Linked DNA regions of Homo sapiens. The protein of the gene in region 1 purifies or fractionates together with the protein of each later gene. This does not show direct contact. Each region holds a gene or a part of one and is shown on either strand. Other genes may lie near its edges. The genes, in order: RHEB and SRPRB.

Region 1 (17,251 bases):
CCTCCCAATTGCTATTATATTGTTATATTGCTATTATTCTTTCTCAGAAAGTAGACTTTAAAGGCCGGGCACAGTAGCTCCTGCCACTGCACTCCAGGCTGGGTGACAGAATGAGACTGTCTCAAAAAAAAAAAATCAGACTGGGTGCAGTGGCTCACACGTGTAATCCCAGCACTTTGGGAGGCCAAGGCAAGCGGATCACCTGAGGTCAGGGGTTCGAGACCAGCCTGGCCAACGTGGTAAAATCCTGTCTCTACTGCAAATGCAAAAATGAACCAGGTGTGGTGGTGTAGCCTGTAGTCCCAGCTACTCAGGAGGCTGAGGCAGGAGAATCGCTTGAACCTGAGAGGTGGAGGTTGCAGTGAGCTGAGATAGTGCCATTGCATTCCAGCCTGGGCAACAAGAGGGAAACTACGTCTCAAAAAAAAAAATCAGAATTATATCAGCTGGGGGCTCTTTCCTCCATTATACCTTCTAACTGGTAGTTTTTTACTCAGTGCTTCTTAGACATAACTTCTTTTTTCTATGTTTCCACAGTTTCCCTTTAGGGAAAACAGAATTTTAACTTTGAACCTACTCTAGCTGAGCTAGTGATTAAAATCATTTGGGATTTTGTTTTTAATCTTATTTATTATATCAAAGAATTTATAATAAAACTTAATTTTTCTTTTCTTTTTTTTTTTTTCTTTAAAGAACTTTACCATAGGGCAGTAATTCTGGGCTGTCATAAACAGTGGTTATAACCATACTATAAGTTTACAAAAATAATAGACTGCTGCTTAATCTTCTGGTACCATGATGTGATTTTTCCATAATAGTGCTTAGGACATGTGTTATGTTGACAATTTAGTTTCAACTAAGAATGAAACGTTCGTACCAGACAGTGGCGCGTGCTGTTGAAAACTGCACTGACATCAGAACTTTCTGTATGCTTTAATACGTATATAAAGCAAAGTGTCATAACGCTGCTTTATAAAACTAAAGACTACTGTGCTGTTGCGTAATAGGTACCTTTCTCTTTAATTCCTAGAGTTGCTCAGTAAATAACTCTCTTGGTCCCCAAAAGTCTGAATACCTCAATTGAACCTGGTGTTTTGATCCTCTTTTCTCTTTCTCTGTTTCTCTCTCTCTCCCCCACCTCCCTCCCTCTCTCCCTCTCTCCTTCAGATGCTGATGGCACCCCTCTAGCAACCTGTAGACTGAAGCTCAGGTCATTGTGACTGACATGCAGAGAATAAATCAAATAATATGCCAGTTTCAAATATAAAAATACAGATTTATGGGATAAATCAGCAGGATTTATAAATGTCCTGAGGTCTAGAAGGTTCTGGAGTTAGTGATGCTCATCCCTTGTTTTGAGATCACAGAGCCAATGATTTTTGTGTTCCATCCATCCTCTTCTCCCAGAAATTATGAAGGTCATCAGACTTTCCCCTAAAGTTCTAGAACAGCTAGTCATTTTTAAATATTGGCTTGAACCACATTATCACCTCCAGGCCATTCTTAAAGCTTCACTTTGTAGGCTGTTTCTGGCATAATATTGTAATCCACTCTGCGTCTACTTTGATTTCTTCAGGTAATACATGAAAAACTTTGGGTAAAGTTTGTTTGTGATGCTATATGAAGACTACTCAAAGATAATTTTTTTTCCCCACAGGATGAATATTCTATCTTTCCTCAGACATACTCCATAGATATTAATGGCTATATTCTTGTGTATTCTGTTACATCAATCAAAAGGTAAGACTCCTGCTGCCTGCTTGAGTTGATTTGCTACTCATAGATAACATTGATCCTTTTAAGGGACTGTGCTGGAATTATTAATAGTGACAATTAGAATTATTAGGCTACATGTTTTTTAGTGATTTTCTCGTGGAGCAACTGGATTGCTGGGAAACATGGCCCACTAGATGTTCTGTTAGTTACACCAATAGGATAAAAGGCTCTTTCTTACCTCAAGCTACCTAGAAAAACAGTGGTTCAGCATGATCTAAGCTTTTCTGCTAATTGAAATGGGAAATGCCTAAATTAATTTTACTTTGTGTGTGTTTTTACCATATTAAGGTGAAATAGACTTTCTAATAAAATGTGGGGGTTTGGGTTTGTTCAATATCTTATCCTTTGAATTTATGAAATAAGACCTTTTGGTAATAGAGTCTGACTTTACTACATAAAAACAAAGCCACTATTTTTATTAATAAGAATGGATATCGGTTCCTCTAGCTACGTATTTCATGTCTCCTCTTATCGGGGGATGGCATGTATTATCAGGAGGAGCAGTGGTCTGTGTCTGTTAACAGAACAGCTGGCTGTATACAGCAGCGGAGCTCTGGGCATTGGTGACAGCTTATGTTTGAAGACTTTATGAAAATATCAGTGCCAGTGGAGGGCGTTTGGTGGCTACGTAGCATCTATTGAGTGTGTGCGACATGTTAGGGAGTTTGCTACTCTCTTTGCCTACATATGATACATTACTTATTTCATCATTACCTTAATCCTTCATCAGAGATGTTTTATATCCCACTTTACGTGGAAAGAAACTGAGTGACAGAGACCTAAAGCAGCTTGCCCAGGGCTACATAATGACATTGCTGGGATTCATAGCCATCTCTCCAGTTCCACAGTCAAGGCTGACACTGTCCAATAGAACTTACTGCGGTGATAGAAGTGTTTGCTCTCTGTGCTGCAGGTGGCTGTTTAACTAAAAATGGAAAATTAAGCCTCCCTCGGTTACAGTAGCCCCATTTCAGGTGCTCAGTAGCCACATGTGGCTGGAGGCTGCCATGTTGGCCAGTGTCTGGGTTCCTTACCCCCACATACTCCACTGCCAGTGAAAATTCAGTCTGCTGCTCTGTGAGTGTGTTGTTTAACATTTTTCTCCGTGGCAGAGAAACATACTTTAGGGTGTTGAGTTCTAGCTATAAAATGTTTGAGTACCATTCTCGGCCATTCTTATAAACAGACCCCATACTGTCAATCCCCGAGAAAGTTTACACCTGAATCAAAACCAAGTACCAGAATTATGTGTTCCTTAAGGAAAATTGAGGAACTGTGAAAAATAGAAAGTGAGGGTAATCATTCTTAATCTAATTACCTAAGCATAGATACTGTTAATATCTTGGTATATGTTTTTTCTGGTCTTTGTTTTAGTCTGCATGGATTGTTTTAACATCCTTTTATTTGCTCTCTGAATGCTGTTTTATGGTTTATATTTTCCATGTTTTTATATTTTTACTTACCATGTAATATATATTTTTCCATATTACCTAGTATTTGAAATAGTAAATGGCTTTATAATATTTCATGTTCAATGATAGATGGATATCTCTCTTCCTGTTTAATGTATTTATTTATATTGTCACTGAAAGCAATGCTTGGATTGGATTTTATGCTTAAAACCACTGTGTACTTAGTATTTGGAAACATGATCATTTTCTTACTGACTTATAAGAGCACTTTAAATAGTAAAACTATTGGCCATTTTTATACAAAGATTTTTTTAATTTCAGTTGTATATTTTTAAAATGTATATACTGCCACGTGTAAGGCCTTGTCCAGAACAAATTTAGTGTACCAATAATCTAATGAATGTTGGAAGTTCATGTTTGTTTATGAATTTCCATTATTTTACTAATTTACTTGAAAAACATGATTCAAAGATTGTTTTGTTGTTGGTAAGTACAATTTTATCCTAGCTGATTTTTAGAAAACAGTGTTGGTGTTACTTTACAAATTGTTACTTTGAGGCATTAAAGTAGTAGGTAGAAAATTTTCTTAGTGCATCCACTGATTTTTTTTAAGTCTCTTTTTTGGTGTGCACAAATTAGATGACATTATAGAATCAAGTTGAAAACATAGCATGTGCCACTGGGGAAATTGAAAAATACATTGAGCTGGATTAAAAATATGAAAGTGTGCTCACCAAGGACCTTATGTATTTGAGAAAACACTGGCCTAGTGCAAAGCAGAGGACAAAAAGCTTGGTACTGTGTCTTCTCAGTGGCACTGTTGCAAGTTTTGACCAAGTTTCTCCTTACTAAAATGGGTGTGTTTTCTTTTGTTATATGCCTTTTACCTCAGTAACTCATAGTTTAATGAGCATTCTCAAATCTCAAACATGAGTGTGAGAAGAGTGGTGTTTTGTTTTTTAGAAACCTATATGCTGAATACACAAATATTTATGAATATACAAGAAATATGTCAGTAAAACTTTCTGAATCAACCAGTTTGTTGATCAGAATTGTCTAATCCTTTTTATTGAATTTAACCTCTATCTAAATAATAACCATTTTCATTGTTTGTGAAATAAAACAGAAGTCTCACATTATTCCTTTATATCATAAAACCCCTGTAGAATTGCTCTTTCTGAGTAAATAAAGCGAAAATACATCCTATTTCATAATTTCTAGAAATGGAAAAAAGAAACCTGCAGTTGAGAGATGTGAGATTTGGGTTTTCATTTATCCCCACTAACAACTTTGGACAAGTTACTTCACCGTACCTTTGTCGCCTGTAAATTGGGTATATTGATATAGGAGTAGATCTCTCCTATCTGAGGCAGCCGGGTTACTTACTTTAAAACATTAGTTAAGGGCCAGGCGCAGTGGCCCACACCTGTAATCCCAATACTTTGGGAGGCCGAAGTGGGCAGATCATTTGAGGTCAGGAGTTCGAGACCAGCCTGGCCAACATGGTGAAACCTCATCTCTACTAAAAATACAAAAATTACCCGGGTGTGGTGGCGGGTGCCTGTAATCCCAGCTGCTCGGGAGGCTGAGGCAGGAGAATCTCTTGAACCTGGGAGGCGGAGACTGTATCATGAGCTGAAATCATGCCATTGCACTTCAGCCTGAGCGACAAAGCAAGGCTGTGTCTCAAAAAAAAAACAAAAAAACAACACTGGTTAAAGGGAAAAAAAATCGGAAAGGTGATGTCAATCTCCAGTGTTTTGTTTTAAAGCATAAATATACATTCAGTCACTCATCTTGTGAAATTTTCAAATTGTCATCTTTGAATATGAGTTCACCCACTGCTGTTCAGTATGACTACATCCACGATTTGTCCATTATGACTTCTGGTTCGGTTTCTTCCGAGTGAGATGCTTGGGAAACAGTCTACACCTCAACTATTTAGATTGCTGTGATTTTCCCCACCAGTCTTTTTCAGTTGGTTTGGCACACCTTATTAAGGAGCACCGTTTTTAGTAGATCAACTCACAGTATTCAACTTCTAGTTTTCAGACAAACAAAACTCTGTCTACACATACTTCAAAAGTTTGCAACATAAATTATGACTATGATGAATTTAACTGGCATAAGTGGGTTTGGGAACAAATGGGGCTGTTTTAAATAATGCCTTTTTTTTCTAGTAGCTCGTAGTTTAATCAGCATTCTCAAATTTGAGACATGAGGGAGTATGAGAAGAGTGGTGTTTTGTTTTTTAGAAATCTGTATGCTGAATACACAAATATTTATGAATATCCAAGAAATACGTCAGTAAAACTTTCCGAATCAACCAGTTTGATTCAGAAAATCAGTGATCTCAAGAAATTTAGCCACTTAGAACAGTACACATTTATGATCTCACAGTTTTTGTGGGTCAGGAATCTGGGTGTGGCCTAGCTGTGTCCTCTGCTTCAGTCTCTCAGAGCCACAGTGTGGGTATCAGCAGGGGCTGCAGTCCCATCTGAAGGCTTGCCTGGGGGAAGATGTTTCCCAGCGTGTTCACGTGGCTCTTGACAGGGTTGAGTTTCTTGCAAGTTGTTGGACTGAGCTTCTTAGTTCCTTGCTGGCCGCTGGCCTGAGGCTGCCCTCTGCTCCTTGCCAGGTGCTTCACTTCATTGGGGCAGGTGCACAAGAGAGCCAGGGAATTTCCTGCATGACAAGCCACTGTCTTTTATAACCTAACCGCAAAAGGGACATTCCATCACCTTTGCCATATTCTGTTCATTAGACGCACGTCACTAGGTCCATGCAGGGAGATGACACACAGTGTGGCCACTAGGAGAGCAGGAGATCTGGGAGCCGGCTCCAAGCTGCCTGCCACACAGTCCTAGTTCTTTCAGCTGTTTCTCACGTGACAGGGTACTGTATTTTTGCCCAAGTGGCGACACTTTTAAAGATAGGCAAATACAGCATGCGGAGGAAACCGTGGTTCTGTAATGCAACCGCAGGTCCTTAGGACACCCATATCCCATTTGTTGACCCACAGCGAGCTTGTAGGGGGGTTAAATTTCATTTTTGTTTTTATCAAATGACAGCACACATCGTTTAAAATAGCACAGTGTGTAATTCATTCAACAAGCTAACTTATTCTGAAGCTTGTGATGCAATCATGAACAAAGCAGACAAATCCCTGCCCTTGCGGACCTATTATTTCTGGTGTGGGAGACAAACAGTAAAACGACACACATGCGAGATAGGATGTCTGTGACCATGCTGCCAAGAAAAATAAAGTACGGAAGGGGTAAGAAATGGAAAGGAAATTTGTCATTTAGGGTAAACAGAAGAGGTGTAAGAAGTGACATTTGAGGCTGGGTGTGGTGGCTCACGCCTGTAATCCCAGCACTTTGGGAGGCCGAGGCAGGCGGATCACGAGGTCAGAAGTTTGCGGCTTGAGAGTCACTGGGGCCGAGTAAAGATGGCCACCCATCAGAGGATGTTGAACCAGGCACCGTCCATCTGCTGCAGCAGAGTCCTCTGGTTGCTGTGCTGAGCAGGGGTGGCGGGGAAGGGTTGGGGCTGTGGAACTGATGCAGGCAGACTTGGGCCAGGAATTCACACCTCAGCGGCAGCAGTGGAGGGGAGTGAGAAGCCGTCAGATTCTAGGTAGGATTTGAAAGTAGAGCCAGTGATGTGCTGGCAGATGTTTGCATGGGTTTTTTGGGGGAGGGTGGAAAATGATTTGTGGCCATTTGCCAGCAGTCAGTGGTATAAATAATCCTGCTGTGGCAGATTTCAAGTGATCATTATGACATCTCAGATCCCCTTCCCGGTGAGAGCCACCTCCATCCTAGAGTCATCGGCTCATTGATCTGATTGAAAGCCAAGAGATACTGGCATCACCCAGAGAATGTATGTACCTAGGAAAGAACACAGGAGCAGGCTGAATGTACTAGGGCACTCTAGGAAAAGCTGTTCAAGTTGTAATGTAAACAGTTGGTTCTTTGCTGAATGAGTTGGGTGATTAAAATTTGCATTTATGTGGTTTCTCAGCCCAGTGGTAGGCTTTCCGTTTGAATGCCTTACCTGTTTCACTTTGAATATCCTCAGTCAGGGTTGCTGAGTGTCAGATGTATGCACATGTGAATGGATTGCTAGGAAAAAACAGGAGTTCTTTGTGTTCATTTTATGTTATGTTAAAATGGTGAGTCTGTGACATTTTACATTTTTCCAGCTGGCAACATAACATACATTTAAAAACTTCAACATTAAAATGGATGTCTAATTTATACTTTTTGTTTTATAGTTTTGAAGTGATTAAAGTTATCCATGGCAAATTGTTGGATATGGTGGGGAAAGTACAGTAAGTAGTACCATTTTATCTGCTTGTTAGAGAAACTTCTTTTAATAGTATCTTCTGAGCAATACAATCTGGCACTTACTGGTTTGTCTTTTTTTTCTTACAAATAGAATACCTATTATGTTGGTTGGGAATAAGAAAGACCTGCATATGGAAAGGTATGTAGCTTTTATAAAGTCAAATCTAAGATGATTTAGTCACTGAAGTATCATTTTAATTATTGTTCTGATGTCAAGAATATTTTTAGCTGTAGCATTTTTATCCGTTCAGAGGTGTTATGGTCGTGTGCAGCAGAAGCAAAAGTGGAATAGAAATCTCACATTCCTCTAGAAAAGAGAGAGCAAACTTTATAGGAAACTACCTTTAGGTTATCTGCCACTTTGCATAAAGCAAATTCTAAAAAGACATAGTGCTCATTTATGCAGCAAGTGGTTTTTGAGTACCAGGGTTTGGGATTACAGTGAGGAGCAAAGGAGGCAGATGTCCCCTGCCCAGGCAGCTTCATGTCAGAGAGGAAGAGACTCTACAGCCTGCATGCAAGAGAATTGAGCTTTCAGGCTCTTTCACAATTTCCCCTGGCCTTGGGTGCTTACAACCTAGCTGTAAAATAGTCAATTGTTACAGATACGGGAGTACTGGAAAATAAGATCATGTTCTCTGAGCTGGAAGGTTTGCTGGAGCATGGATAATCCCATAAAGCAATGTCTATTCTGTTCCCCAGCTCAGGCGTAATTAAAACACTCCTGTGTTACATTCTTGATGCTAATGTTAGGCCAGGGCATGGTTCTGCTTCATGAGAAAGAAATTGACCAAAATGGAGCCTGTTTCATAAATCAATTATACATGTTTTATATAATGAAGAGCAAAGTACTTTAACTAGAATTTTATTTTTTCTTTAGGGTGATCAGTTATGAAGAAGGGAAAGCTTTGGCAGAATCTTGGAATGCAGCTTTTTTGGAATCTTCTGCTAAAGAAAATCAGGTAACAGATTCTATAAACCTCATTTTGCATTGCGTTCTCATCAGTCGCAGGGATGTGTTCCTTGCAGTTGGCATTTGACCTCTGTCTTGATCACTCCTGTGTAACATCTGGCCTTCCTCCATTTCTAATACCAAGTTTTGTGTTGCTTTAGGAAGATACTACTTAGGTGTTTATAAATTCAGTCAGTATTCTACTTACAGTGGAACCTAGGATATTTGTAGGATAAACAGAAACTATTAGTAAAGGAAATACTACCTTTTGTAAACATATATTTTTGGTTTGTATTAATAGCTGGTACAGAAATAAGTCCATACAGGGGAAAAAAAAAGAATTATATCACTTTAGTACTAATTTTGTAACTACCCACCCCCTGGCTTTTTTTCTGTTAGATGAAACCGGGTCAGACGTACGTGTTAATTGTTAACATAGAAATGATGAAGAACCATCTTATAAGCATTTAGTACCAATTTCACCCCGCAGATGTGCCTTCAAAGGCATGTTCTGGGAAGGATGTAGATTCTGCCTCCGGAGGCTTCACAGTCCTGTATGAGCCCTTCTCTTCCATTGCTCTAATTTAGACCCCCGGCACCAAGCTTGTCTCCCGCCCCCAGTGCATTTTTCACCTATACATTTTTTTTGCTGCCCTTAATTTTCTAAAGATACACATCTGATGGTATCATCCTCTACTCAGAAACTGTCAGTGAACTGCCCCTTCTCTATAGAACCCTTCGCCTGGTCCTGAATGCAGTCAATAATTTGTTCTTTTCTAGTTTCTTCTCTCACCACGTTCTTGTACTTTCCATCACATCAAACTGCTCCCTTCCTTAAACACACCATCTCCTGTCCACCCCACTTTCAAAATGTCTCACCTTTCCTCATGCTCCCCTCCGGTTTAAAATAGCCCTTCTCTAAGTATCTACTTAGGTTCATGTGGGGTTTTATATTTTGAATGTGTTTTCAACATGTGGTGGTGTTTGATCCTCAGGTAAGATGACTTGGTTTTCATTTCTCTGAGGAAACTCTAGTATAGTAGGGTGGTGCCTCCTCCCTGGGAGGGCCGGGCGCCAGCAGCCTTGGCACTCTTCCTTCCCTGCCCCGCCCCTCTCCGCAGCACGGAGGTTTGTAGTCCTCAAGGCCCCACCTAGATTTCACCTTCTTGTTGACCCCCTCTGGATCCATCCAGCTGAAAGAAATTGTGGTTTCTTCTCTTAGCCCTCTTAATTTGTTCTGAGATCTGAGTCAGTATCATTTATATAAATATCCTTCATAATGTTTAGCACAGTGGGTTATCCGTCAGCCCAAGTATCCTGTGATAGTCAAATTGGCTTTGTCCTGTGTTGGGATATGGAGGGATAGTGAATCCATGTGGTTATGTCCTCTTATGTGCGGATGAAAAAAACTGATTAAACAGATGTGTGTAATTCGTTCCCAAGTTCCAGATAGCAAGGGATTTATCGAAGTCAGCTCAGTTTCTGAGTATACACAGAATTCAAATAAGAATTGAGATAGTTAAGAGATACCTATATTTTAAAAATTGAATTAAATCCATTGAGTGCCTATGGACTGTATCCTTCAGATCATGTAGTTAAACCGCCTCATTTTAGAAGTGAGGAAATTAAGTTTCAGAGAAGTTAAATGACTTTTCTAAGATCACCCACTACCTTACGTGGTATAAGAACTAGGACTGAATTGTAGATCTCATCCACATCTAGTCCTTTTTTCTCTACACACTGCTTCCTGTCAATCAGGTGATCTGAAGCCGGTGACCTAGATTAGACAAGCGGGGTGGGACCTGGGGTTGGCTTCAGTTAACTAGGAGGACAGACGCCTCATTCATACCAACAGGACAGAAGGCTGAGGATGGGAGCCCACATTCAAGTGGGTGGGTCAGCTTGGTGGATGGAGGATGTGGAGTTCTTTCATGAATGTGGCTTCTGTTTTCCAGTGAAGTGTGTAAAACAAGGTTTTCAGCTGAGCGTAAGCACGGGGAACATTTGAGGAGAAGGGACAAGGCGTGGATGCTTTCTCTGGGGAGTGCCCAGATCCAGGGATGCAGGCGGGTGGCTAGGCAGCACCAAGTGTCTGCGCCAGGTTCCTGGTCATGGGTGTGAGGTCAGCAGTGAGCGGTGTGTGTTTTCCCTGGGCAGCGTTTACGGTGTGGCCGCGGGCACCGTGCCAGCGACAGTTGGTAGGGAAGGGAGTTGAAGTACAGTGGCGCCATGGTGGCCTGCTGAGTCTGAGCTGACCGAGAGGGAAAGGAGCAGCAAGAAGTGGTTAAGGGACAGGGGAGATGTAATAATAGGGTCAACAAATCAGGCCCCTTGTGGGGCTGAGAATTGTTGCTTCAGGATAGCTAGAGAAAGAGCTGGGAAGGTGGTGTGGTGGGACGCTGGCAGTTGGTGTGTTCTGGTTTCGTGGGATAGTGGAAGTCACTGGAGTGATGGGGGAGGGGGATTCTTGGTGATTAGGAGAACAGGGTACTTCCTGTGGGGCTTCTGAGAACAGGGGCAGTTTTTCATGACCACAGGACTGCATTTCAAGGACAGGGTCTGGGAGTCACGGTGGCTCAGGCCTGTTGTCCTGGTGCATAAGGAGGCGAGGCTAGGCTTTCGAGGCCAGCCTGGGCAACATAGAAACCTCCAATCTGTATAACAAAAAAGGAAAAATAAAGGACAGGGTCTGACAGTTCTCCTCCCCACTCAGTGTAGGAAGAGTTCCTGCTCCAAGTGGCCATGATTCCTGTCTGTGGTGAAGGACTGGTGGGGTTGACCCTGGGCTGAGGCTGAGGGCAGGAAGACGGGCAGGAGAGGAGAGGCCAGGAGATAGGGAGGGCAGTTTGTGGATTGAAATGACCGAGAATTACGCCACAGAGGTGTTGGAGGCTGGCATCGTGGCATCTCAGGAGCACGGAGGGTGCCTTCCCCACTTCAGGCCTCTTAGTGTCAAGGATGTGAGAGGCAAGGGCTGCTGGGAGAGTATGTCCCGTAGGAAAGGAGGAAAGATAGTGCCAGAAGTGAAGAGGGACCCTGAGGTCAGAGGACACTGGGGTGGGGGTCATGGGGTGGAGTGGGACAGGAGATGGTGGTGAGTCTGGGAGTGAGGACTCTTCGGGCGTCTCCTGGTGCCTGAAGGAAACAGGGTCAAAAGCACAATCGGAGGCTGGTTATGGTCTGGGTCAGGAGGGGTGGACAGTGGCCTTACTGGGCGTCGGGGGGCCCTGAAGTTCTGGGGCTCACCAGAACCCCTCCTCCTCCACCAGTAGGAGGGCAGGGCAGGCGGCACGCCCTCCTCAGTCCGTAAAATACTCTCGGAGTTCGGCTTCACACTAACACTGTGATTGGGTTTCTTTCTCTTTTCAGACTGCTGTGGATGTTTTTCGAAGGATAATTTTGGAGGCAGAAAAAATGGACGGGGCAGCTTCACAAGGCAAGTCTTCATGCTCGGTGATGTGATTCTGCTGCAAAGCCTGAGGACACTGGGAATATATTCTACCTGAAGAAGCAAACTGCCCGTTCTCCTTGAAGATAAACTATGCTTCTTTTTTCTTCTGTTAACCTGAAAGATATCATTTGGGTCAGAGCTCCCCTCCCTTCAGATTATGTTAACTCTGAGTCTGTCCAAATGAGTTCACTTCCATTTTCAAATTTTAAGCAATCATATTTTCAATTTATATATTGTATTTCTTAATATTATGACCAAGAATTTTATCGGCATTAATTTTTCAGTGTAGTTTGTTGTTTAAAATAATGTAATCATCAAAATGATGCATATTGTTACACTACTATTAACTAGGCTTCAGTATATCAGTGTTTATTTCATTGTGTTAAATGTATACTTGTAAATAAAATAGCTGCAAACCTCAGTCCTTTGTGCTACTTGATGTGGCTTTCAAAGAAGAGAAGCCTTGTCCTGAGTTTCTCACTTGGCTTCAGGAAGGCCCCAGGTTGGATTCCAGAAACCAGTGAAGATGTGGCCACAGGAGGAGGTGTGCTGAGGTGGCTGCTGACCGTGGACTCCCTGCGCAGTGGCCTGCAGATGTTGGGGCTGGGTTACAGCTGATTGAAGCTGAGTGGCCCTGGGGGGTCTGTGAGGGGAGTTCCTCCCCAGTGATGAAATTCTCTCCTTCCACCCTCAAATCCCTAGACCTTGACTGAAATGCTCCGTGGTCGGGAGCCTGGTCAAGGAGGAGGAGCTGCTGAGAGGCATTGTTCGCCCTTGCTCATAGCTTAGCTCGATGTCCGTGTCAGACAGGAGATGATTGAGAACAGCCTTGCCTGTCACTGTCCTAGAACACCCTGGAGTTTAGTGTTCTGTGTCAGAGTCTTGGGAGCCTCCTTCAGACCCAGATGACGGGCCTCCCTCTGTCCAAGGAGCAGCTGTAAAGGAGAAGAGGGATTTCATTTGTTTGGTGGCTGTTACCTTGTCTGTAAGTCAAACTTGGAGTTGAGCAGTGCTTTTTAAACGATTCCCTTTTGCAGCTAAAATTTCACAGGGCTATTTCTAATACGTAAGCAAATGTTACCATTGACTTTATTAATAAAATATAGTTTTGCTTTGCAGTTGATTGTTAATGAAAAATTATGTTCTTAAAACACATGCCATTAATTTGGATCTTTTAAATATTTTTGCCTCATTTGTCATTCCAGGATGAAATTTCTGCTTTAGAAGACTTCCACCAAATACATTTTTAAAGACAGGGTCTCACTCTGTCACCCAGACTAGAGTGCAGATCATAGCTCACTGCAGCCTCAAACTCTTGGGCTCATGCTCAAGTGATCTTCCTGAGTAGCTAGGATTACAGGCCTAAGCCACTATGCCTGGCCAAATAATCACCTTTTAAATTTTGACAACACAGTATTGTTACTTATTACCAGGGTTATTCTTAGGACTAAAAATGTAAGAGCACTGAACAGAAAATGGGGACCTAGTCCATCCAGTTATGTCTATGTAAATGGAACTTAGAACAGCATATTGTACTAGAAACTCAAGTTCAACTGAACTCTCCTGAGGTGGTCCTTTAAGGACTGGACCTCCTGAGTGGAGGGAGCATAGTATCATTTCTTTATGTGACGCAGTGCACACATTCCTTCAGATATGCCCTGGGGACCTGCCATGTGCCAGACACTTCTCTGAGTGCCATGAACACAGCAGAGAAACCTGCACCCCTGTGTGCCGTCAATCCTGCGCTGAACCTTGGAGATGCCACACAGGGTAGGCCCCCGTCCAGCTGCCCAAGGCAGCAATCCCAAGAAGACAGTTGACTCGTTTACTTGATTGAGCATTCGTGGTTTTGTTTTTTTGTTTTGGTTTGGTTTTTCTGACACAGAGTTTCGCTCTTGTTGCCCAGGCTGGAGCACAATGGCACAATCTCAGCTCGCTGCAACCTCTGCCTCCCAGGTTCAAGCAATTCTGTCTCAGCCTCCCAAGTAGCTGGGATCACAGGCGCATGCCACCACACCCGACTTATTTTTGTATTTTTAGTAGAGACGGGGTTTCATAATATTGGTCAGGCTGGTCTTGAACTGACCTCAGGTGGTCCGCCCACCTCGGCCTCCTAGAGTGCTAGGATTACAGGCCTGAGCCACTGCGCCTGGCAGAGCATTAGTCTTATAATCAGTGATAAAACATTGTCACTGGGCATGATGCATGTGCCTGTAGTCCTGGCTACTCAGGAGGCTGAGGTGGGAGATTGCTGGAGCCCAGGCGTTCTGGGCTGTAGTATGCCGTGCTAATCCTGTGTGTACACTGAGTTCGGCATCAATACGGTGACCTGGGAGCTAGGGACCGCCAGGTTGCCTGCGGAAGGGTGAAGCCATCCAACCTGGAAACAGCGCTCAGAACTCCTGAGCTGATTAGTAGTGGGAGTGTGCCTGTAAGTAGCCACTGCCCTCCAGCTAGCAACATAGCCAGACCTGTCTCTTAAAAAAAAAAAAAAAAATTGTGTTGAAAAGGTAATGCTTTTCTTTGTGGTACGTAAGTGTAGTCTTAGATTTATTGAAATACAGGAAGTGCAACTATAAAACTATATCCAAAATATTTTGCAGTTCAAAATTAAATTTTAAAATACAAATTATAAAATCACATTACAAATTAAAATTAGTGTGATAGAATTTTGTTAAAACTAAATTGTCCATCCACTCTGGACATCTCTCCCCACTGGTTCACCAGCCATGCTCTTGCCTGAATGGCTTCTCACCTGCTTGTCACCAAATCTAGTAGTTTCCGGTTGCTTTCTTGACCTCTCGGTAGCATTCCACACAGTTCACCGCCGTCTCCCCTGCGTCATCATTACCCCACCATCTCCTGGTCAGCCTGCCAGCTCTGCTGGTGCATTGGTCTCCTTGGCTGTTCTGTATCAAACCTCTCAGCAGACCTTTTTTCCTGCCTACACCCTCTGCCTTGATACTCTTCAAGCATAGCTGTAACTCTGTGTAACCAGAAGAGTCCAAAATGTCTATCTCCCACCTTGACCTCTTTGGGCTCCAGGCTGATCTTGACAGACTCTCTACTTGGGTGTTTTATAGGCATCTCAAGTTTACTATGTCCAAAACTGAATTCTTGATTTTCCTTGGAAACCTGGTCCTCTCTTGGACTTCCTGTTTCAGGAAATGACACCATTATTCACTGGGTCCGTATGAAAATTAGCAATTTGGGAGCTGTTCTTTATCCCTACCCTCATACTTCCCATCCGATCCATCAACAAATCCTAAGGGCCTTGCCTTCAAAAATCTACCTTGTGTTTTGTCCATTTTTGTCTCCACTGCATCCTGGTCTGCAATGGGACACCCTCTGAGCCCCTACACCTCAGCCAAAGCCAGCTTGTAAAAACAGTATCATGTTGCTCCTTTGCTTAAAATCCCTCCGTGATGATTGTGCCAAATCCGTGTGTCCCAGCCTCAAGGCTCAGAGTGACCTTGCTGCTGCTTAGCTCAACCCTGTCTAGTTAGTGGCCTTGATCAGTTTCCAGAGCCAGAAAGCTCTCTTAGCCATGGGGGCTTCTGGGGCTCTTTCCTTTGCCTGGGACACCCCTTCCCGAGACTTCTAACCCTTCAGATCTCAACATTGTCTCTTCCCAGGGGCTTCTAGGATGGCCTGAAGCACCCCTCTCTGTGAATCTATCCAAGCACTCATGTTTTATCATATGGTACAGCATGTGTCATAACTGATCATCACTTTTGTTCCTTGTATTGTGTATGTTGTGTATTACTCGACTAGATTTGGCTGGAGTGGAGACAGTGTCTCAGACATCTTTGATTCCAAGCTCCTCCTAGCACAGAGCCTATAAAATAGATACTTTCTACTGTGCCATTTTAATTTCCTTGTAGTTTGTGTGTGTGTGTGTGTGTGTGTGTGTGTGTGTGTATTTTAAGTTATTAGCAGTTGCCCTGGGAATTACAGTTAACATCTTACTTTATTATAACACTCTAGTTAAGATTCATACCAACTTAATTTCAATAGCATACAAAAGCTTGGCTCCAGTTCCTCTCTCATTTGTGCTGCTATTGTCATGCAAATGACATTTCTATATATTATATGCCCATCAGCACAGGCTTACAATTGGCTTATGAAGTTGCCTTTTAAATCAAATAGAGAAAAGAAGTTACAATTAAAAAATACATTGATGTTGTCTTTTCTACATGCTTATGTGGTTGCCTTTACAGGTGCCCATTATTACTCCTCATTAGGATTCAAGTTACTGTCTAGTGTCCTTTTCTTTCAGCCTGAAGGGCTCCTTTGGTATATCTTCTAGAGCAGGTCTGCCAGCAATGGGTTATCATGGGTTTTGTTTATCTGGGAATGTCTTCTTTATTTTTCAAGGATAGTCTTGTTGGGTATAAAAGTTGGGGGGAGAGTTTTGCTGTCAGCACTTCTACTTACCCAACTTATTCAGGTATTTCATGAGCAGCACTCAGCCTGGAGCCTGCAGGCTCTTGTGTAACCCCAGAAACATAATGGCTTCCCAGGCCCCCTGTGGGCATCTCATTTTCCAGTTTCTGTTAGCTTGTTGTTTGCCCCAGTGTCAACTAAATTGCTGCTGATTGTTTTGATAAACGTCCCCAGGGAGAAAGTGCTGGGTGAGCCTAGCTCAGAGTCAGGTCACAGGCTAGCTTGCAGGTGGAACCACCAGACCAGGCAAATGAGGTCACTGAGCTCCAACCCCAACTTGACCCTTCCTGTGGCTGCTAAGCTGCTGAGTTTTATGGGGATTGCTGCTGTTGCTTTCAAGGCTACCAGGGAGCTCAGGGGCAGAGGTTTGGAGGGCTGTGAATAGGGCCAGTAAAAATGCCACAATGCTCACTGCTCTGAGGTTCAGCCAATTTCCTTCAACACTCCCTGGATTGTTATGAGCCTTTGGTTAATTTCCGGAGCTCTGGAAACGTTTATTTTTTTGGACAGTTTTTGCCAGTGTTCTCATTAGGTTCCTGGGGTCCTTACTGCACAGTTCCTGATGGTGTGGCTGCTGAATGAATGAGCAGAGGCGCCTTTGTAGGGCACCACCTTCTGGACAGGTTCTTTTGAATTTAGCCTGCACCTGTTGCTGTGTGATTAAAATTCCCCACCATGTATACAGTGCATTGTGCTGCCATTTGACCTGTCGTTATTGAGTCCACCTGACACCAGCTCCCAACAAAGAAGGGCTGCTCCTGCTCAGTGCCCTCTGCCATTGTTAATACAAACAGACTGAGATTGCAGCTGTACCCAGAGGTCTGAAAGTCACTCAGATGCCCCAGAATGTGCTGCTGCCTCA
Region 2 (9,342 bases), on another chromosome or scaffold:
TTGAGGATGAGATACAATTGCTGTAAAGAACTATAAATTGAAGGATTTTTAATCTTAAAATTTATTTCTACTCCTACCTTTTCACCAGTCTTCTAACCAGAAGACCAAGGAATGATAACCAAGTGACTGCTAACTGATTTTTCTTTGATACAGTGTTTTTTCTGATTATAAATTATTTTACTTTACCAAGTTAAGTTCATCAGATTGACAATATGTGATATCAGATGCACAGTTTTGCAGGGTGGAGTTTCTGCTTTCAAACAAGTTTACTGTACAGCACATTTTATCAAGGGAAGTTTGCTGAAGTTGTTTTCTTTTAACCTGATAACCATTGAAAACTTTTCTAGTAATCCCCAATAAAACTGGGCTTCAGTTCCGTTACCTGTACAATAAGACAGACTAGTGGATCTCTTCAGGTCTCTTCCAGATCTGAAATTCTGATTCTATGAAGAGTTCAAGGCATTTCTCAGAAGTGACCAGATAATATTGATAATGCCTTATTGGGAATGCAATTAGCGTCATTACCTGACCTCTTTATTTCCCTGATTGAATATAAGGAAGGGAGTTATTGTTTATTTGCCATGGGCTTTGTGCCAAACCAGAGCTTGTTTCTTACCTTTAGTACACTTAATGCTTTAAACATACCGTCTTAGGATCAATTGGAAACATGCTAAGTTTACTTTAAAATGACAGATAGGGCACTGTCTTTTGGCATGTGAAGGCACTTCTCATAATCACAGCACTGGTAGGTTTTCTTTCTGTTAAACTGAGTAAACTTATATGTTTTGAATTGAAAGGTCTATAAGGTGTGGAGAACTTTAGGGAAAGCTAAAGTCAGTTTTAGGGTCACCAGCATAATATGTTTATAAGCATTATCTTGGGAAAGCCCCTAGTGCAAGTATAAAGCTTACTTTGATAGAGAAGGAACTAGTGATAAAAGGTCTTTTTTTAAAAAAAGAGAAAAACTTACTGGTTTAAATAGGAATTTTCCTTCTGTGTAAGAAGTCTTGGGGAAAAAACTCATTCTCGTTTAAACTACAACAGTGTCTTTATTTCTTTACAGATATTGCAATGGCAAAATCAGCAAAGTTAATTCAACAGCAGCTGGAGAAAGAACTGTAAGTGTGAAAGAGGCCTGTTGGTTAATTATATATCTTAACACTTAGACTGTAAGCAGCATATTCATGTTTCTTTTGTTTGGTTTTATGTGATTATCACAATTATAGACTGAAGATTAGTGTGATAAATATTTGTTAAATAATTTACAAAATAATGGAATCACAAAAACTTACTAGGGTGCTTATAGATATTTTAAAATTTCATGGAAAGAAGATTTTTTTGAAACCATAAACTTAATTTATTTTACCATTGTTACTAAATCATTTATAGTTGAAAGGTTTTAGAAGCTAAAAAAGTTTACATGCCAACTTGAGAACGGTGTTATTTCAGTGAGTGGAAGTGTTTGTTCACCACTCAATAATGCCTGTGAAGTGGTATTTAAGGATGCATGTAAATAATAAAAAATAAAAACTGAGAATCAGGAAAAAAGAAATTAAAACATTTAAAAGCCACTTTGGAAATTATTGTTGACAGAATAAGAACAGAACACTGAGGAAGACTACAAGTCTTTGATACTACATTATAGCTTCTTAGATTGTTAAAATACTTGGCAATATTATATATCCTGCTTTGAGTGTTTCAAGGTTTGTAAATTGAGCTATAAGCTTTTGAATTTTAAGGCATCTAGCATGTCTTCTGCGTTATGCCAATTTGTAAGAGCTAGCCAAAAGCTGGTGTAGAAGAAATGATCAACATTTATAGTAAAGCAAGTTATGTTTTCTTATTGCTTTTGTGTAAGGCCTTGAAAAGGATCTGATGAGGAAAAACTGTATAAATTCAACTTTTAGAAACTTTTCTCCCCACTATGACTTACTGACTCCCTTATTCATTTAAGAAGCACCTGTAGTGCATCTAGTGGATGCCAAGACTGCAGTTGGGAGCAGCTGTAGGAGGAAATGTGTTCCTGTACTCAGGAGCTTAGAGTCTGGTAGAATCTAGTCAGCTTCGGGCATTGGCAAACTCCTGCCTGGGCCTGCAAGCCAAGAGTAAATCGACATTTTTAAAGGGCAGGTAAAAAACAGAAGAAAAATATGCGACAAAATATTTAATTTCTGGCTCTTTGCAGAACAATTTTGCCAGCCCTGCCTATGCCATTTTCAGTGGTTCCTTTCCCGTCTGGAGCTGCGAGTTTATCACCCTGTCCTCCTGTGCTCTTGATGCTCACTCTCTTGGATTGTATCTGTTGCTGCCATTAGGTTAATAAGGACATTGGAACAATTGGATGGTTGGGTTTTTCTAAAAATTCTCTTGAAATTGTTGGGAATTGTTTTGGGGAAGCCAAAACTGTCATAATGTTATTTGTGAATCAGTCTTGGGTTATTTTTAACAGTACAGTCCAAGTCTCCCGTGGTTAAAACACATGTTTTCCATAGGCTGTTTGCTTTTCACTCTATAGACTTAGAGAAAAACAATACAGAAGCCAATCCTTTTTTAAAAGCATTGAAAGGCAATGCTTTCTTAAAAGGCAGTGAAACAAAATGTTGACAAATTGTAAAGGTTAACATCAGTTAAAATTCGGAATCTGACTAATTTTAATCTCAGATTTATGAGAATTAGGCCCTGTTAGCTTAGAGGCATTTCATAGTCTCTCAATAACACGGTATATTATATTTACATGGCCTTGTGGCAAAAGCTGAATACATGTTTTACTTTTTTCCTTAAAAAATTTTTATTGTAAAATATCTTACTTATAATAGTATATATGTCACATGCATTAAGCTTAAAAAATATTAAAATGAATACCTATGTACTCACCACCATGCCTAGAAGGCCCCTGTTTCTCCCCAAAAGCTTTTCCCTCAAGAGGTCAGCAATATCCAGTTTTGTATTGTTTTTTAAAAATACTTTTACAGTGTGTGTGTGTGTGTGTGTGTGTGTGTGTGTGTGTGTTCCTTCCTAAACAAGGTATTGCTTAGTTTTGCCTGTGGATTCTTCACTAATTTTGAAGCAACTTTACAGAACAAGAAATGCTTTATTTTGTAAGAAAGAAGATTGGCAGCATGTATTCCTCTGCTTCTGGATAGCAGAAAGGGGAAGGGGAGGCCGACAAATGAGTGTTGCTTATGCACCCTTTATTAGGGCCAGCAGGTGGCAGTAAGGGGACTTACATTGGGAAGGTTTTGGTGGTTAAAGAGGTTGGATAATAGTAATTCTGCCCTAGTTAGATATGAGAATCTGGAGTTGGTGGATTTCTAAACTCCATATCCAAATAGACTCAAGATAAAAATACATACCCTATCTACCCACACTTAACTTTCAGAAACTTATGTTTTTATAACACTTAAAGCATGTATTTTAAAAATATATTTTTAGACGGCTTCATTCAGTAGATCCTCTTAGAAGGGGGCCTTGGGCTGAAAGAAAGTTGGTGTGACCTGGTCTACTGCTGACCTGCCTTCTAGCCCTGTGAGGTCTGACCCCCCCAGCCCGCCCCACCTACCTCACCTCTCTGTCCAAGAGAGGGACTTATAAATGCAAAGGATTATTCAACAATCTTAATAGCATAATTGGCAATTCTATAGTTAAGTTTTAAATGAGTGCTGAAATGTTTAGAAACTAATATGATTTAATTGCTGTATAAAAATTTTGCCTCCTGACTTCTTTCCTTTTGCCCCACAGCAACACCTTACGAGTTACCCGTTCTGCTGCCCCCAGCACACTGGACAGTTCCAGCACTGCCCCTGCTCAGCTGGGGAAGAAAGGCAAAGAGTTTGAATTCTCACAGTTGCCCCTCAAAGTGGAGTTCCTGGAGTGCAGTGCCAAGGGTGGAAGAGGGGACGTGGGCTCTGCTGACATCCAGGACTTGGAGAAATGGCTGGCTAAAATTGCCTGAGAGGCAGCTCTAAAGCACAAGACCTGGATGTGTGACACACAGTTTTGGAAAAAGGTCTGTGGTAGTCTGGAGTTGATGAGGAAGGGGTACAAGATGTGGTTAGAAACATTTCTTTGTTCTGGAAACAAAGTACTGTTGAAACCAGCTTGGAATTTTTTTTTTTTTTTTTTTTAAGTTCAGTTCTCCCTTATGGCTGCCTTTCAAACAAGTACCTTTTATCTGATGCCTGTATCTTCCCTTTGTTAAGGTGTAACTTGATGTAGGGTCAAGGTTTTTGTGACAACAGGCAGACTCCACACAGAGAGGATATGATGAGAATATGGCCATCACCTGAAAAGTTTTCTTATCTTCTGTGCTTTTGGTCCCTGGAAACAAATCCGCCTATGTATGAAGCTAGTTGATTTCCAGTTGCACTATTTCCAGTTGCCTCTGAAGTTCACAGGCAATACATTGTCTAGTCCTTTGCGAATTTCTCTGATTTGTGGGCACAGTTATGAAGTTTCCCCACATGTGAAGACAGGTACAAAATAGCAGAGCCAAGCAGACAGTGGGTCTATTCTTCATTAGCTCAGTGACTTGTCCACACTCGTCTTAGCACTTACGTTTCAAAAGCTTGTCACAAACCCTTGGAGTCATTCCCAGATAATAGAACTGGAAATGATAAATCCCCTAATGCCAAGGGTCTAGTGTGTTCTTAGTGGTTATACTGGGAAGTGTGTGGAGATTTAGGTGCTGCTCTGCTGCTCTGGATGGCTGAAGGCTCCTGGGCCATCTTCATGTGCTGCTTGAAGAGCTCCTATTTTGTACTCCTGGCTAGAATGCTGTGGAACAAATACAAAGTGAAAAAAGTTCTCTGTAGATTTCTGAAGTGCATATTCATTGATGCCAAGAAAAAAAAAAAGTTGCCTTTTTGAAGTGATGTTTTTTGCTGTCTTCTTAAACACAAGGCTTTTTTGAATGATTAGTATATTTCATGGTAAAGAAAACAGCCTGTCTGGCTCAAAGCAATTAAATAGAATGTAATGGTGAGTACAAATGAGTGCACATGTCAGGACTCAGGTCTAACTCCTTGTCTCCTGAGCCTAAAGATTGCAACATACACAAGAACACACTCCTATTCCTACCCCACACACTCAGGGACAAGCCCAACTAAAGCTTACAAGGAGACCAGGGTGGCTCTGTCCAGGGGAGAAGCCAGTTATGGAACAGTGCATTGAGAGCCATGGTAGGAGAGGCCCACAGTTCTCTGGAGCATGCAGCAGGGGCACCCCACCTGGCCTTGAGGATCAGGGGGAGTCAAAGGATAAAGCATGGGGCTGATGACGTCTGAGGGAGTGTGATCCTCCATGTATGGCCTCTGCCTGCTGTCTCACATGTCCCTTCTGGTGGTCACTTGGGCTCTAGGAGTATACGTCACCTCAGACCATCTGGCAGAAATACTCCAGGCTCCTACCCCAAAGCACATGTCAGCCTTGCTGCTGGAGCACGAAGACAATGTAAATGAAACATGAAATGGAGGAGTTGTGAGACCCTGACCCTGAGTCCTTACTTGAAAGCTGCTGCTGGTGTTCTGAGTGTCTTTTGGACTCTTATTTCTTGCCCTTTTCCTTATTAGGCAAGCAGTAACTTAGGAAGTAGGTAAGAGCAATAAATGTGACATGTTATGTCATCATAGTAGGAGCTCATGGGAATAAAAGTCAGTGGCTTGATGCTTCTGTTAGAGGCATGTGTCCCTCTCAGCCTCTTTTATTTTTTTCTGGTTAATATCTTACTTTATTGGAGGAAGCAGCACACCAGAAAAAGTGACTGAAGAAGGGCTGCAAGTTTGAGTTTGATTCAAGGCCTAAAGAAGGTCTTCCAAAAAAGGATAATTCTATCTGGAACACTGGTCTCAAATGTTAGTGGGCATCAGAATTACCTGCGATGCTTGTTAAACTGATTTGAGGACCCTACTCTCAGACAATTTGATTCAATAGCAAGTCTGGTATTGCCTCAGGAATCTGCATGCTTAATAAGTCTTTTGTCAGTCGCATGGCACCCCTAGAGATGATCTGGCCTGGAGTGTCACGTGTGCCTTTACTTTGTTTTTAAAGTCTCTTGGGGCACACACCCTGCTGAGTTTTTCTGACAGGGTCAAGTCAGCAGGCATGGGAACTCTGACCTTGCTTCTTACTCCTGTACTAGTAGCAGGCATTCCGTTCTTGTGGCTTTGGGCCAGGATGAGGTCATGGTGACTAGTCTTTGGGAACTGGGAAGGGTTTTGATGGGAGGTCAAATGTGCTCTCTCCACTCAGGTGGTGCCCTTTTGTGGCCCTGAGGGCATTTGACTAAAGTAGGCCCATTTCATGAGATGGGCAGGTGTGGCCAGAGTAGAAGGATGGATGTCAGGTCTTGGAGACGGGCCAACTAGGCACGACTGTATGACATAGATGAGACTTTTGAGCTTGAAACACCTTGGGAACATGGCAGTGTATGGACACCGAGACCTCCTAGGACAGCAGCTGCCTAATGCAAATGACCCTGTTCCCTGCTAAGGCTGCAGTGAGATGCCCTCATGGAGGGGCAGCTGTGATGAGTGAGCCCCAGGCACTCTGTTGGTGAATATGTCCACTTCTGGAATGGAATCTCCCTAGTGGGTATGGACACGGGCAGACCCAGAGGGGTCTAAGCACTGCACTGTTTCTTCCTTTGGCTCCTCTCCAGTCCGGGCCTTGGTAGCCTCTCCACTACCAGGTGCCTGACAGTCTACTGGGGGTTCCTAATCAACAGCAGCTGCTGTTGGTGGGGAGTCCCTGGGGTCTGTCACTTCTTCCCACTGCCTCTGTCTCAGTGCCTCCTGGGCTGTCAGTGTTCCCCTGTGGTCCTGCCTTGTATGAAGCGCTGGCCATGCTCTGTTGACTTAGATCATTTCAGCCAGTCTATGTTTTTTCTTGTTTTTGAAGTTTTGGGTTCAGCACAATTGTCAAAGCTTCAGTTGGCTCATGCCTGTCCTCACCTGAAGGCCATCAGTGGCAATTAAGATGCCTATCTCTTTATCTCATCCCTTCACACATTTAAGGAAAGGTGATCACCCACCTACCTTCATTTAAATGCGCAGGAAAACAATCCCACTTCCCTTCAACTGTAAACCTCGAGAAACTTGACTGCTCACAAGAGCCTTGTACGCATTTATCCATTGGGTAAAGGCCACGCCTTGCAGCAGACCATGGAAATACTAAACAAAACGCAATTCCTGCTTTAGAGGCTAGTAGCCCCATTCTGAGGTTAAGAAACGTGCCCTTTCAGTGTGGTTTCCCTGCTCTCTCAGTAGTGTGAGCTCCATCACTGCTGCACTTGACTCCTAAGCGCTGTGTGGGCTTGTGGTCAGCTGCCAGCCATGCAGCCCCAACGGGACTGCCACTTTTCCACTGGCCTCTGAAGTGCCAGTGTTCCCATGATGCTGATGTGTGAGGCACATGGCCATGTTCTGTTGACTTGAATATATTGTTTCAAGGGTTTTTTTGTTTTGTCGAGACAGAGTCTCACTCTGTCGCCCAGGCTGGAGTGGCAGTGGTGCCGTCTCGGCTCACTGCAACCTCTGCCTCCCGGGTTCAAGTGATTCTTCTGCCTTAGCCTCCCCAAGTAGCTGGGATTACAGGCCTGTGGGACCACTCCTGGCTAATTTTTAGTAGAGATGAGGTTTCACCATGTTGGCCAGTCTGTTCTCAAACTCCTGGCCTCAATGTCTCTTCTAATCAAAGATGGCTTCCTTGAGGTGGCAGCAGATTGGAGGGTGTTCTGGAACCTTTATAAGCTTTAAAAGGAAAGGTAATTAGTGAAGTTGGACTTGAAGAAGAGTGAGATTCCCGGGCAAGGGCAATTTACCTAATCTTGGCCTTTGTTCCTCTTTGGATTGGTCCCAGGACTGTGCTGGCTTTCTGAGCATCTTTTAGTCTGGAGATAACTGAGACCTGGAGGGGCCACTCAGGGATGTTCCTAACTGGTGTGGTGTGGGGCTGGGGATGGAATATGGCAGCTAGATGTTGTCAAAGGTCATTATAGTTCACCTTAAGTTCTTGCCTTTAAATGGCTTTCTGAAAATCACCAGAAGCATGAGAGATCCAGTCCCTGTACCCTCTCCCCCCTTCCTAATCCCCTAGCCATGGCAAGCAGAGTGGGGATGAAGGAATATATCGTACCCCTGACTCAGTTCTGCCTGGAGGCTCCCTTCCCATCAGCCTTTCAGCAGAATGGAGATTAGGGGAATGCGTGTGGATTTACTCTCATGAGTGTGTCCCATCTTTACCCCTTCGGAGTTGGTGGACAGCCCAACTCCACCAGTAGGAGGAAGAAGCAAAGCAGCAAAGGGCTTTAGGTAGTGGACATACCACCCAGGCATGACAAAAGGGACTCTGTGGAGCACACACTTCAGGAACTGTTTTTGAACCCCCCCATTTATGACTGCACCACTTAAACACAGACAAGAAGCTTTGTTTTGAGAATTAGGACAGTTTATTGTTTGACCAACATGCTGAGTCTTTTCCACATTTTACACAGTTTAATGTGAAATCAACATGGCGGCTATGTCTTCTGAGCCCATAACAGATGGAATTGCCACCCTCTGTGCTCCTCACAGCCAATCACTTTAAAGGGATGGGTGAGGGGAAAGTGAGGGGAGAAGTGGACACACACCGCGAGATGCAGGCTGGCCTTCAATGCTATGGAGGCTTCCCACCTCCTGAAGGAACCATCTAAACCCCTGCTGCAAGGATTTCCTGATGAAACCACACACTGCTGGGAGTGCCAACCAGACAGGGGTCTGGAGTCCAAGGAGTTTGCACATTGAGATCCCAAGGTTTTGGAACACCTAAATAGTTCATGTCAAACAAAAATTCAAAGGGTGTCCTGATCTGTGTGGGTGCCCATGACAATCAATCAGAGTAGACTTGGGGACTGGCCCTTGTGCAGTAGAGGAGCCCAAAATACCACCAATATTCTCACTCATATGCTGGGAAGAACCTAGTGTCCTAACCAAAAAGAGTAGAGATGGTCTGAGGAACACACCCACACACAGCAGTCCTTGCTGTGTAATAAATATGGAGTCACATTTGTTCACACACAGGGCAGCAATGGATGAAAAATGGAAACTTCACTGGTTCTGATCACTCCTAACTTGCTGGGTGATCTTAATAAGCAAGTTGCCCTTCTCCATCCTGGTTTTCCTGCCTGTAGACAGGAAAAGTTGTGACAGCTCTGCTTCACATAGCTGTAACAAGGTGACAATGCCTCACATTCTTTGGGGAGAGGCAGTTCGGAAACGAGTGTGCGCACAATCTGCTCGGTTGATGCACACAGACATCCTTCTGTTCAGCTGCCCCTCAAGTGGCTCAGACATGCCTCACTGTCCTCGG

Evidence for each region.
Region 2: the proteins of RHEB (region 1) and SRPRB purify together in Homo sapiens (affinity purification with mass spectrometry; 2 studies listed by BioGRID and IntAct, with this or other methods). This does not show direct contact.

The regions. Positions count from the first base shown.
Region 1 is NC_000007.14:151,461,822-151,479,072, reverse strand, and holds the end of RHEB (GTP-binding protein Rheb), read left to right. Parts: intron 1-1,657; coding exon 1,658-1,740; intron 1,741-7,467; coding exon 7,468-7,524; intron 7,525-7,631; coding exon 7,632-7,679; intron 7,680-8,420; coding exon 8,421-8,502; intron 8,503-11,861; coding exon 11,862-11,954; 3' UTR 11,955-13,061; downstream 13,062-17,251. UniProt on the Homo sapiens protein: Small GTPase that acts as an allosteric activator of the canonical mTORC1 complex, an evolutionarily conserved central nutrient sensor that stimulates anabolic reactions and macromolecule biosynthesis to promote cellular biomass generation and growth.
Region 2 is NC_000003.12:133,815,815-133,825,156, forward strand, and holds the end of SRPRB (signal recognition particle receptor subunit beta), read left to right. Parts: intron 1-1,063; coding exon 1,064-1,118; intron 1,119-3,738; coding exon 3,739-3,952; 3' UTR 3,953-5,678; downstream 5,679-9,342. UniProt on the Homo sapiens protein: Component of the signal recognition particle (SRP) complex receptor (SR). Ensures, in conjunction with the SRP complex, the correct targeting of the nascent secretory proteins to the endoplasmic reticulum membrane system.